Linked DNA regions of Homo sapiens: region 1 is linked to region 2. The links come from fine-mapping of genetic effects on gene expression. Tissue or cell type: lymphoblastoid cells. Region 2 holds a variant in brackets; the other region holds the start of a gene. All regions are shown on one strand. Distances are from middle to middle.

Region 1 (5,145 bases), 140 kb after region 2:
TTTTGGTAGAGACTGGGTTCCACCATGTTGGCCAGGCTGGTCTTGACCTCCTGACCTCAAGTGATCTGCGCACCTTGGCCTCCCAAAGTGCTGGGATTACAGGCCCACTGCACCTGGCCTCAATAGTGTCTCTAGAACAACCCAACATCCACATGCAAAAAGATGAATTGAGAACATTACCTCACACCATGCAATTAGATTAACTCAAAGTTAATCTTAGTAACAGATCTAAATTGAAGAAGTAAAACTTGTAGAAACACTAGAAGAAAACAAAGGAGAAAGTCATTGCATGCTTAGATTAGGCAAAGATTTCTTGAGTAAGATACCAAAAATAAGATCCATAAAATAACTCACTGATAAACCAAACTTCATGAAAACATCATTACCAATTTTGCATCTCAAAAGACGCAGTGGGTTTGTGTTGTTTCATGCACACGAACAATGGGTTTGGGTTGTTTACTGCAGCCCTGGCCACAGTGTGCACTGACCCTGTGATCATAGTGTGCTACATCTGCCTTGAATAATTACCAGAGTTCAGTCCCCTGGGATCACACATGTGCTGTCCAACTCTAGGACCAACTGGAGTTTGCAAGACCCTGGGTATGTGCTGTGTATTACATAACTCCAGCACTGACCAGGACATGCAATTACCCTGTCCAGGTGTCCTGTCCAGCTCCAGCACTGGAATGTGGCATCCTTTAAAAGGGGAATACTCTTTCTGTCTGGCTCCCAGCTGATCCCTAGAGTTTAGACGGGCCTCACATATAGTACATGGTGAGTGTAGAAGAGAGAGTAAGGAATACGTGTTCATTTTGCTTGGTCACCTTTGAAACTCCTGACAATACGGGTTCAAGTCTTCATCCAACTGCCCAGAGAAACTGACATCACCAAATTAAGTTTCCCTGCCATTCAGAAGTTGCAGCTGTTTCCAGCTGTTGGGATGCTTGCCAGCCATTCACTGTCACACCTGACCCACCCCTAGCATCTGGGCCAACACTGCTTCTCATCCTGCTGGTCTCAGAAGGTCCCAGATTGGGGAAAGGGATGTCTGGGTCAGTGTAGACAGAATTGCTCTTACAACTGCAAACTGTGCTGCTTTCTGGGATCAGAGATTCCTCACACAAAAATCTCTCAGGTGACAGAAGTGGGCATCCAGAGCTATTCCTAAGACGAGATCCTTTGGGCTGGGTGAACCATGCCCCTGGCTTAGAGGCCAGCTAATCTGGAATCCCAGGTCGGTCATTTGGGGACATCTCTTCCCCAGTGTGTCTCTCAGCACAGGGATTCCATGTCACTTAACAGATGGTAAGATCACAGGGTGACTTTAGTCAGAGGAAAACGCCCTGGAGAACTGTTTAAAACTCTCTAACGGGCCAGGCACGGTGACTCACGCCTCTAATCCCAGCACTTTGGGAGGCGGAGGTGGGTGGATCACCTGAGGTCAGGAGTTCCAGAACAGCCTGGCTAACATGGAGAAACCCCATCTCTATTAAAAATACAAAAAATTAGCCGGGTGTGGTGGCACACGCCTGTAATCCCAGCTACTCAGGAGGCTGAGGCAGGAGAGTCATTTGAACCTGGGAGGCGGAGGTTGCAGTAAGCCAAGATCGTGCCATTGCACTCCAGCCTGGGCAACAAGAGTAAAACTCCATCTCAAAACAAAAACAAAAACAAACCCCAAAAACAACAAACAACAAACAAAAACCTCTGTATAAGGCAGGGTCTCTCATTGGAGCCAAGGTCTGTCATGTGGGGCCGCGTCATTCCTTGCAGTGGAAGCTGACCTGCACATCGAAAGCTGTTTACCAGCATTCCTGGCCTGCACCCACTTAATGCCAACACCAAATGCCTCTCCCTATTTGTGACAACCAAAAATACCTCCAGACATTTCCCAGCGGCCTCAGGGAGACAAAAATCCCCCCCAGGGCTGAGAACCACTATTCTAAGGGATGCCAGCTTTGAAAGAAGCATTAGGATGAAAATTTGTAGGGTTCCGATTTCACGAAGCCTAGGAGAGGGAAGTCTGGATGCTCAGAGCGCAGTAGACTGTCTTGCTTTTAAAACTGTGACCAGCAAGGACCAACTACTCACTGCAAATAACGACACCCACCTAGTCTCACTGCTTACCAGTTTTCTGGAAACTCCTAAACAAGGGCTGCTTGAACAAGCCGCCTTCTAAACGCCCAGCTGGACTAAAAGGCTGGTCTTGTGCAGACCAGGGCAGCCCCCCTGAACCCGCAGCCCTGCAGAGCTCACCCGAACTTGCCAGGTTTAGAAATATTCTCTGTGAAGCCAACTTAGCAGTACTCCCCAGCAGTTAGTTAATTCACCTTCTCCCCGCTGTCAACCCACCAGAAGCCTGCAAGCAAACCTCTAGAAAAATGTAGAAGCAAAACAAACACTTCCTCCTCCCTCACCACGCCCACCCACGGGAAAGTGCCCCTTCGCACTCTCCTCCCACTTCTCAGCCAAGACGCTCCTCTTACCTTCATACCTTGGACAACTGGAAATCGCCACCCATGATGACAGCCCGGGTCACACGAAGGGGGCGAGGTGGGGCGGGGGGAGCTGACCTCAGCACCTTTAGCTTTTGGGAGTCCCTGTACCTCCACAGAGCCACTTCGGAAACTTTAGGGCGCCCCCTCCTCAAGACGATTCGGGAACAAGAGGCCAGGTCCAGCCCAGCGCGGAGGCTGTGTGGCCTTGGGCAGGTCGCTGCAACACTCTGAGCCAGTACCCGCGACCCCCACCCCAGAAGGCGACCGACCTCCTCTGTCGCCGGAGGATACTCACGGGGCCTGAGGCTGCGCGGCGCGCACGCCGTCCCGCGCCGACAGCAGCAGGAGCAGGAGCGGGAGCAACGGCCAGAGCAGGGCGCCGCTCATTTTTCGGCTCCTGGGGGGCGCCGCGCCTGGGGAGGGGGCCGGGCCAGGGCTGGGCCAGGGCCAGGGTCCGAGCGCGGCCGTCCTCGCGCCGCCGCCGGGGGCCCTTTGTTCGCAGCCCCCGCGCAGTGCGCCCGGCGCCATGCGCCCCGCTCCGCGCCCGGCCAAGCTGGGGCAGCCCCGGGCCAGCCCCCTCCCCGGACCCGCCTCGTCTCCGGGACCGCCCCGCTCGCCCCGCTCGCCCCGCTCCTGGGCGCACCCTCCCGGGACGCCTGCTCCGCCCATCTCCGGACCCCGACCCGCCCCGATCCCTTCCGGGGATCGTCCCCTCACTTACTCACCGGACCCACCCGGGCCCTGCCCGATTCCTTCCGAACCCGCCTCCTCACCCCCTACCCGGATTCGCCCCCGGATGCCCCCCTCCCCACCAGCCCCGCCTCGGACCCGACCCCCCACCGCCCCCACTCTCCCTCTCCTCTCCACCCAGCGTCCACTCGGAACCTGTCCCTTCCCTGGCCTCTCCCTCCCTCCCTCCCCAGCCAGCCCCTTATGGCCCCCTCCCCGGGCCCGCCCCTCACCAGGGGCCCCTGGGTCTGGACGCCGCCTGCAACCCCGATCCCACAGGCGCCGCCGTGCCCTAAGCCCTGGCCTGTATCTAGTGCCCAGTGCAGTGCGTACAGCCCAAGGAGCAGAGGACCCTTTGGGGAAACAGTCTAGCCAGGGGTCGAACCTCCCAGACTCACATCTGCCCCAGGTCCCTATCTGTGCTCTCTGCTCCCCTCTCCCCCACCCCCACTGTCCACAAATCCCTTGGGCCCGTCCCCTCTCTCGCTGGGCCTCAGAGTCCCCCTTTCCCCTTCATACAGCAGGGGTGGATGGGCACCCCCTTTCTCTCCAAGAGCAGGGTGTCCCCTCCTGCCCCTCCCCGTGTGGCCACCTCAGTGATGGTCCTGCTGTCCTAGGTCCCACTGGCAGGCGGCACATCCTATACCATGTCCAAGTCCTGGACCCCCTCCTTCCAGTGTGGAACCCCCTTCCCCCAGCTACCAACTGCCCTTCTTCTAAAATTCCAGTGCTGACCACACCCCCTCCTGCCCGGAATCCTCGGGGCTCCCTGTTTATTTTACATTTTATTTTTATGTTTTGAGACCAGAGTTTTGCTCTGTTGCCCAGGCAGGAATTTAGTGGTGCAGTCACAGCTCACTGCAGCTTCAGACTCCTGGAGAGTAGCTGGGACTACAGGTGCAAGCCCGCACCCAGCTAATTTTTATATATTTTTTTTTAGAAACGGAGTCGCACTGTGTTGCCCAGGCTGGTCTTGAGCACTGGGCTCAAATGATCCTCCCTCCTCAGCCTCCCAAAGTGCTGGGATTACAGGTGTGAGCCACCACATCCAGCCAGGGCTTCCCGTTTATTGAGACCAAATCTAAACTCTGGCTTTGATGGCAGAGACCTCAGCCTAGTTCCTCCAACACCCTGTTCTTACTCCACTGCCTGCTTCTGCCTAATCTCTGTCTTCCTCTACCTGCCTCCTTTGCCAGTCCAACTCCTGATCCTTCCAGGAAACTCAAGGGAAGCTTCTCTTGCCCCCTCCCTGCCCCTAGGGATGTGGGTCCTCTGGGGGCTTCTCAGCCCTGTCAACAGCCTTTGGACCCAACACTGATCACCCAGGCAGCACCAAGCCCTGGGCTGGGCAATGAGGACCCTGGGACATACAGGACCTGCTGCCACTGAGCACACAACCCAGAGGGGACGTAACTGATGATGGTGTGTTGGTGTGTGTGTGTGCGTGCACGCGCGCAGGGGCCGGAGTAGATTGAGTAGCCGTCTCTCCTGCCTGGAGAAGAGGAGGAGCTGCCTGCCTCCAAGCTCAGACCAGGCCAACCCCAAACAGGCTGCTAAACTCACATGGAGGTGCAAAAATCTAGCACCAAGAAGCAGCATCTGATCTCACCCTCATCATCGAAGTTTGCCCCATGCCACCCCTCCGGGCCCCTCCAGGCCAACTCTGACTCCTACCTAAGCCAACCTCCACTCCTCAGCCTCCAGGCCAGCCTTTGAGCCCTCCGCCTCCCCCTTGACCATTGGGCTCTGGCCACATTTGCTCCTGAGATACATCAGACCCCCACCCACCACCACCATCTTGGGCCAAGGTGCCAGCTGTCCCCTCTGCCTGGGATGCACTTCCCCGTGGCATCACAAGACCGGCTGCTCTCCTCCACCTTCAGGGTTAGCCCGGAGGTGCCTTCCCTGCCTGCCTGGT
Region 2 (5,145 bases):
AAGCACTCACTCCCCAATCCCCCTCCCCCAGCCTCTGGCACCCCCCAACCCATTCTACTTCCTGTCTCTATGGAGGTGACCACTCCAGGGACCTCCCATGAGTGGAATGACTCAGGATTTGTCTTTCCGTGACCGGCTTATTTCCCTCAGCATAATGTCCTCAAGATTCATCCACAATGTAGCATATGTCAGAATTCCCTTACTTTTTAAGGCTGCCTTTTTTTTTTTTTTTTTTTTTTTTTTTGGCAGAGTTTCACTCTGTCACCCGGGTGGGAGTGCAGTGGTGCAATCACAGCTCACTGCAGCCTCGACCTCCTGGGCTCAAGCAATCTTCCCACCTCATTTTTTGATTTTTTGTAGAGACAAGATTTCACTATGTTGCCCAGGCTGGTCTTGAACTCCTGAGCCCAAGCGATCCCTCTACCTCGGCCTCCCAAAGCACTGGGATTACAGGCATGAGCCACCACTCTGAAACAGCCCGGCCTGGCTGTCTGCCCTTTTTAAGAAAATAAGATTTTGGCCGGGCGTGGTGGCTCACGCCTGTAATCCCAGCACTTCGGGAGGCTGAGGCGGGTGGATCACCTGAGGTCAGGAGTTTGAGACCTGCCTGGCCAACATGATGAAACCTCGTTTCTACCAAAAATACAAAAATTAGCCAGGCATGGTGGCGGGTGCCTATAATCCCAGCTGCTCGGGAGGCTGAAGCAGGAGAATCGCTTGAATCCAGGAAGCAGAGGTTGCAGTGAGCCGAAATGGCACCATTGCACCTTCAGCCTGGGCAACAAGAGCGAACCTCCATCTCTAAATAAAAAATATTTTGGCCAGGTGCAGTGGCTCATGCCTATAATCCTAGTGCTTTGGGAGGCTGAGGCAGGTGGGTCACCTGAGGTCAGGAGTTTGAGACCAGCCTGGCCAACACGACGAAACTCCGCCTCTACTAAAAATACACAAAATTAGCCGGGCATAGTGGCAGGCGCCTGTAATCCCTGCTGCTGGGGAGGCTGAGGCAGGAGAATTGCTTGAATCCAGGAAGCAGAGGTTGCAGTGAGCTGAGATTGCGCCATTGCACTCCAGCCTGGGCGACTGATCGAGACTCCATCTTAAAAAAAAAAAAAGTTTTTATGGAAAGTAACACAGTGCACAGAAAACTCCAACAGTACAAAACAGACACATGGTTTCCTCTCCTCCAAAGCTGTCGCGCCCAGCGTCCTCCGGGAAGTACCTGGGCAGTGTCGCCTGGGTACAGCTTGTGCCTGACAGGGGCAATGTCATCGTCACCTCTGCTTGCTGGGGTTCCCCCGACAGCCTGTGCTGCCGTGTTGTTCCCGGGGAGGGGCTGTTGGCGGGCACCTCCCTGCTTTGTGCTGCTGTGTGGATATCCTCCCAAGGACATCTTCCTGTGCGTGTGTCTGGCAGAAATTCCTAGACATGGAACCCTTGAGTATAAGGGCATGTGCGTCACTATGTTTTTTTTTTTTTTTTGAGACGCGTTTCACTCTTGTTGCCCAGGCTGGAGTGAGGCTGGAGTGCAATGATGCAATCTCGGCTCACTGCAACCTTTGCCTCCCATGTTCAAGTGATTCTCCTGCCTCGCCTCCCGAGCAGCTGGGATTACAGGCATATGTCACCATGCCTAGCTAATTTTGTATTTTTACTAGAGATGGGGTTTCTCCATGTTAGTCAGGCTGGTCTCGAACTCCCAACCTCAGGTGATCCACCCGCCTCTGCCTCCCAAAGTGCTGGGATTACAGGTGTGAGCCACTGTGCCTGGCTTTTTTTTTTTTTTTTTTTTTTTTTTGAGTCGGAGTCTCGCTCCGTTGCCCAGGCTGGAGTGCAGTGGTGTGATCTCAGCTCACTGTAACCCCTGCGTCCTGGGTTCAAGAGATTTTCCTGCCTCAGCCTCCTGAGGAGCTAGGACTACAGACGTGCGCCACCATGTCTGGCTAATTTTTGTATTTTTAGTAGAGACGGGTTTTCACCATGTTGGCCAGGACGGTCTCGATCTCTTGACCTCGTGATCCACCCACCTGGCCTCCCAAAGTGCTGGGATTACAGGCGTGAGCCATTGCGCCCGGTCGTGCATCACTATTTTGATGCATCATCTTCAAACCACCCTGCCCCAGCATCACTGGACTGCCGGTGTGCCCAGCCTCCCCTGCACAGCTTCCCACTCTGCTCACAGAGAAGACGGTGGAGGGGGGAGCCCAGGCGTGGGTTTTCCGTGTGCTGAGGGTGTCCTCAGCCACCTTTTTCCCCAAGTCATTGACGTGAAGCTGATTTTCTCATTGGTGGCCATGGAAACTGCCCAGAAATGGGAGCAGGGCCTCTGAGACCCTGCCCCAGCTAGACTCTCTCTCCAGGCTTCAGTGTCTCCTCCTGGAGCTGGGTGTTGACTCTGTCCAAGACTCTGCTCAGTCACTTCCTGGCTGATCCCCGAGTGCTCAAGTGTGTGATGAGATTAGGGCTCCCCCAGGCAGGAAACGGCCACATTGGACCCCTCCCTCCCCCATCCCTAGTTCATTTTATTTTCCCCAATCCTCATGGCTCCCAACTAGGCCCTCCTGCTCCCAGACCCCCCCAAGCCCTGTCCCCCATCCCCTGTAGCCCAGCGCTGAGCACACTGGGGCCAGAACCACCCATACCAGACTCCCCCAGGGCAC[G/A]ACGGGTTGAGGCCTCTCTGAGGCAGGGAGGGACAACACTGAGGGGCCTTGTGCAGAAGAGGGAAGGGGTACCCCCCCGAGCTTCAGTTTCTTCATCTGCCCGATGAGCCCCCATCCAATGGTACCCAGGAGTGGGGATGTGCTGGGGCTAGAGGAGGGAGGCCCCCTGGAGGCTGGCTTGGGGACCCTTCAACCTGGCCACCTCACTCAGGGTCAGAGGTCAGAGCAGGCGAGCCACACACCCCGAAGTCCCCCCGGTCCTCGGCAGGTGCTGTCCCCAGCATCACTGTCTCCCCTACAGATGCCCGTGTGTCCCCTGGGCAAGAGTGAAGTGAGGCACTCATACAGGGGTGCCTTGTGAGTATGGGGTCAGCCGAGGATGCTGAGGGGCTCTCGAGGTTCAGCCAGAGTCCCTGACGCTGGGCTCGTGCTGCTCTGGGGGTCTGAAGGGACCCTCGCTATTACCCTCTGGGAGGCGCCCATCCTTGGTTTTTTTTTTTTTTTTTGCCGAGTCTCGCTCTGTTGCCCAGGCTGGAGTGCAGTGGCAAGATCTCGGCTCACTGCAACCTCCACCTCCTGGGTTCAAGCAATTCTCCCACCTCAGCCTCCTGAGTAGCTGGGACCACAGGCATCTGCCACCAAGCCCAGCTAATTTTTGTATTTTTATGAGAGATGGGGTTTCTCCATGTTGGTCAGGCCGGTCTCAAACTCCCAACCTCAGGTGATTTGCCTGCCTTGGCCTCCCAAAATGTTGGGATTACAGCCGTGAGCCACCGTGCCTGGCCTAGCAGGGCTCTTCTTATCCTGCTCACCAGAGATAGGAAGTCGGGGGGTGACTTCAGGAAAGGCCCAGAGCCCGTGATGGGCGTGGGGATTGGGGTGAGGACAGGGCTGTCGTGAGAACAGTGGCTGCAGATGTGAGCGGCTGGCAGGAAGTGGCCACTTGAACCGCAGATGCTTCCTGGGCTGGTCAGGGACCGGGGGTGCTGGCTGCAGCTGGGACCCCCCCCCCTGCATCTTGCTGGCCTGGCACCTGGGTCCCTGGGAGGCGCCACACTGGATATAGCCACGTGGGGCAGCCCGGTCTCCATAACCCACACTCCAGTCCTCCCACGGGCTGGCTGGCAAGCGGCCCTGGTGGGTCTGCGGGGGCAGGGGCAGCCTTCCTGGTTTATCTCTACCGGCGCGATCTGCTCGTCCGCCTCGGCTCCAGAAGCTGGGGCTCAGGGTCCGGCGAGGCAGGAAGCCTGAGGCCACAGCCCAGAGCAGCCTGAGTGCAGTCATGTGGGGGCGACTGCTCCTGTGGCCCCTGGTGCTGGGGTTCAGCCTGTCTGGCGGCACCCAGACCCCCAGCGTCTACGACGAGAGCGGGAGCACCGGAGGTGGTGATGGTGAGTGGTCCTGGCTTTGGGGTGCAGAGATGGGGTTACATCAGAGATGGAGCTGGGGGCCCGGAGCTGGGGAGGGGGAGGCCGGGAAGTTGCGGGCTTCAGCCCAGCCCACTCTGTATCCCGTCTCTGACCCCATAGGGCTGGGCTATTCCCTTGAGTGTCATGTCCAGCTGTTTCCCACCAGGGCAGACCCCAGGCTCTGAGCACCTCCCTCCCTGCTGCTTCTCGTCACCTGCCGAGGCAGGGGCTGACTGAGGTCCCCTCTCTCTCCCAGACAGCACGCCCTCAATCCTGCCTGCCCCCCGCGGCTACCCAGGCCAAGTCTGTGCCAATGACAGTGACACCCTGGAGCTCCCGGACAGCTCACGGGCACTGCTTCTGGGCTGGGTGCCCACCAGGCTGGTGCCCGCCCTCTATGGGCTGGTCCTGGTGGTGGGGCTGCCGGCCAATGGGCTGGCGCTGTGGGTGCTGGCCACGCAGGCACCTCGGCTGCCCTCCACCATGCTGCTGATGAACCTCGCGGCTGCTGACCTCCTGCTGGCCCTGGCGCTGCCCCCGCGGATCGCCTACCACCTGCGTGGCCAGCGCTGGCCCTTCGGGGAGGCCGCCTGCCGCCTGGCCACGGCCGCACTCTATGGTCACATGTATGGCTCAGTGCTGCTGCTGGCCGCCGTCAGCCTGGATCGCTACCTGGCCCTGGTGCACCCGCTGCGGGCCCGCGCCCTGCGTGGCCGGCGCCTGGCCCTTGGACTCTGCATGGCTGCTTGGCTCATGGCGGCCGCCCTGGCACTGCCCCTGACACTGCAGCGGCAGACCTTCCGGCTGGCGCGCTCCGATCGCGTGCTCTGCCATGACGCGCTGCCCCTGGACGCACAGGCCTCCCACTGGCAACCGGCCTTCACCTGCCTGGCGCTGTTGGGCTGTTTCCTGCCCCTGCTGGCCATGCTGCTGTGCTACGGGGCCACCCTGCACACGCTGGCGGCCAGCGGCCGGCGCTACGGCCACGCGCTGAGGCTGACCGCAGTGGTGCTGGCCTCCGCCGTGGCCTTCTTCGTGCCCAGCAACCTGCTGCTGCTGCTGCATTACTCGGACCC

Evidence for each region. PIP is the estimated chance that this variant, and not a neighbour inherited with it, causes the effect.
Region 1: CPAMD8 starts here. The variant in region 2 is fine-mapped to the expression of CPAMD8 in lymphoblastoid cells (GTEx, PIP 0.92).

What each region holds. Positions count from the first base shown.
Region 1 is chr19:17,023,758-17,028,902 of GRCh38, forward strand. CPAMD8 (C3 and PZP like alpha-2-macroglobulin domain containing 8) reads right to left here and starts at 3,053. Exons shown (of 42, transcript NM_015692.5): 1 at 2,794-3,053. The coding sequence starts at 2,885. RefSeq lists an enhancer at 3,225-4,133.
Region 2 is chr19:16,885,248-16,890,392 of GRCh38, forward strand. F2RL3 (F2R like thrombin or trypsin receptor 3) reads left to right here and starts at 3,752. Exons shown (of 2, transcript NM_003950.4): 1 at 3,752-4,051; 2 at 4,326-5,145. The coding sequence starts at 3,943. RefSeq lists enhancers at 836-1,336, 4,427-5,026. The variant G/A (reference allele first, on the strand shown) is at 2,661.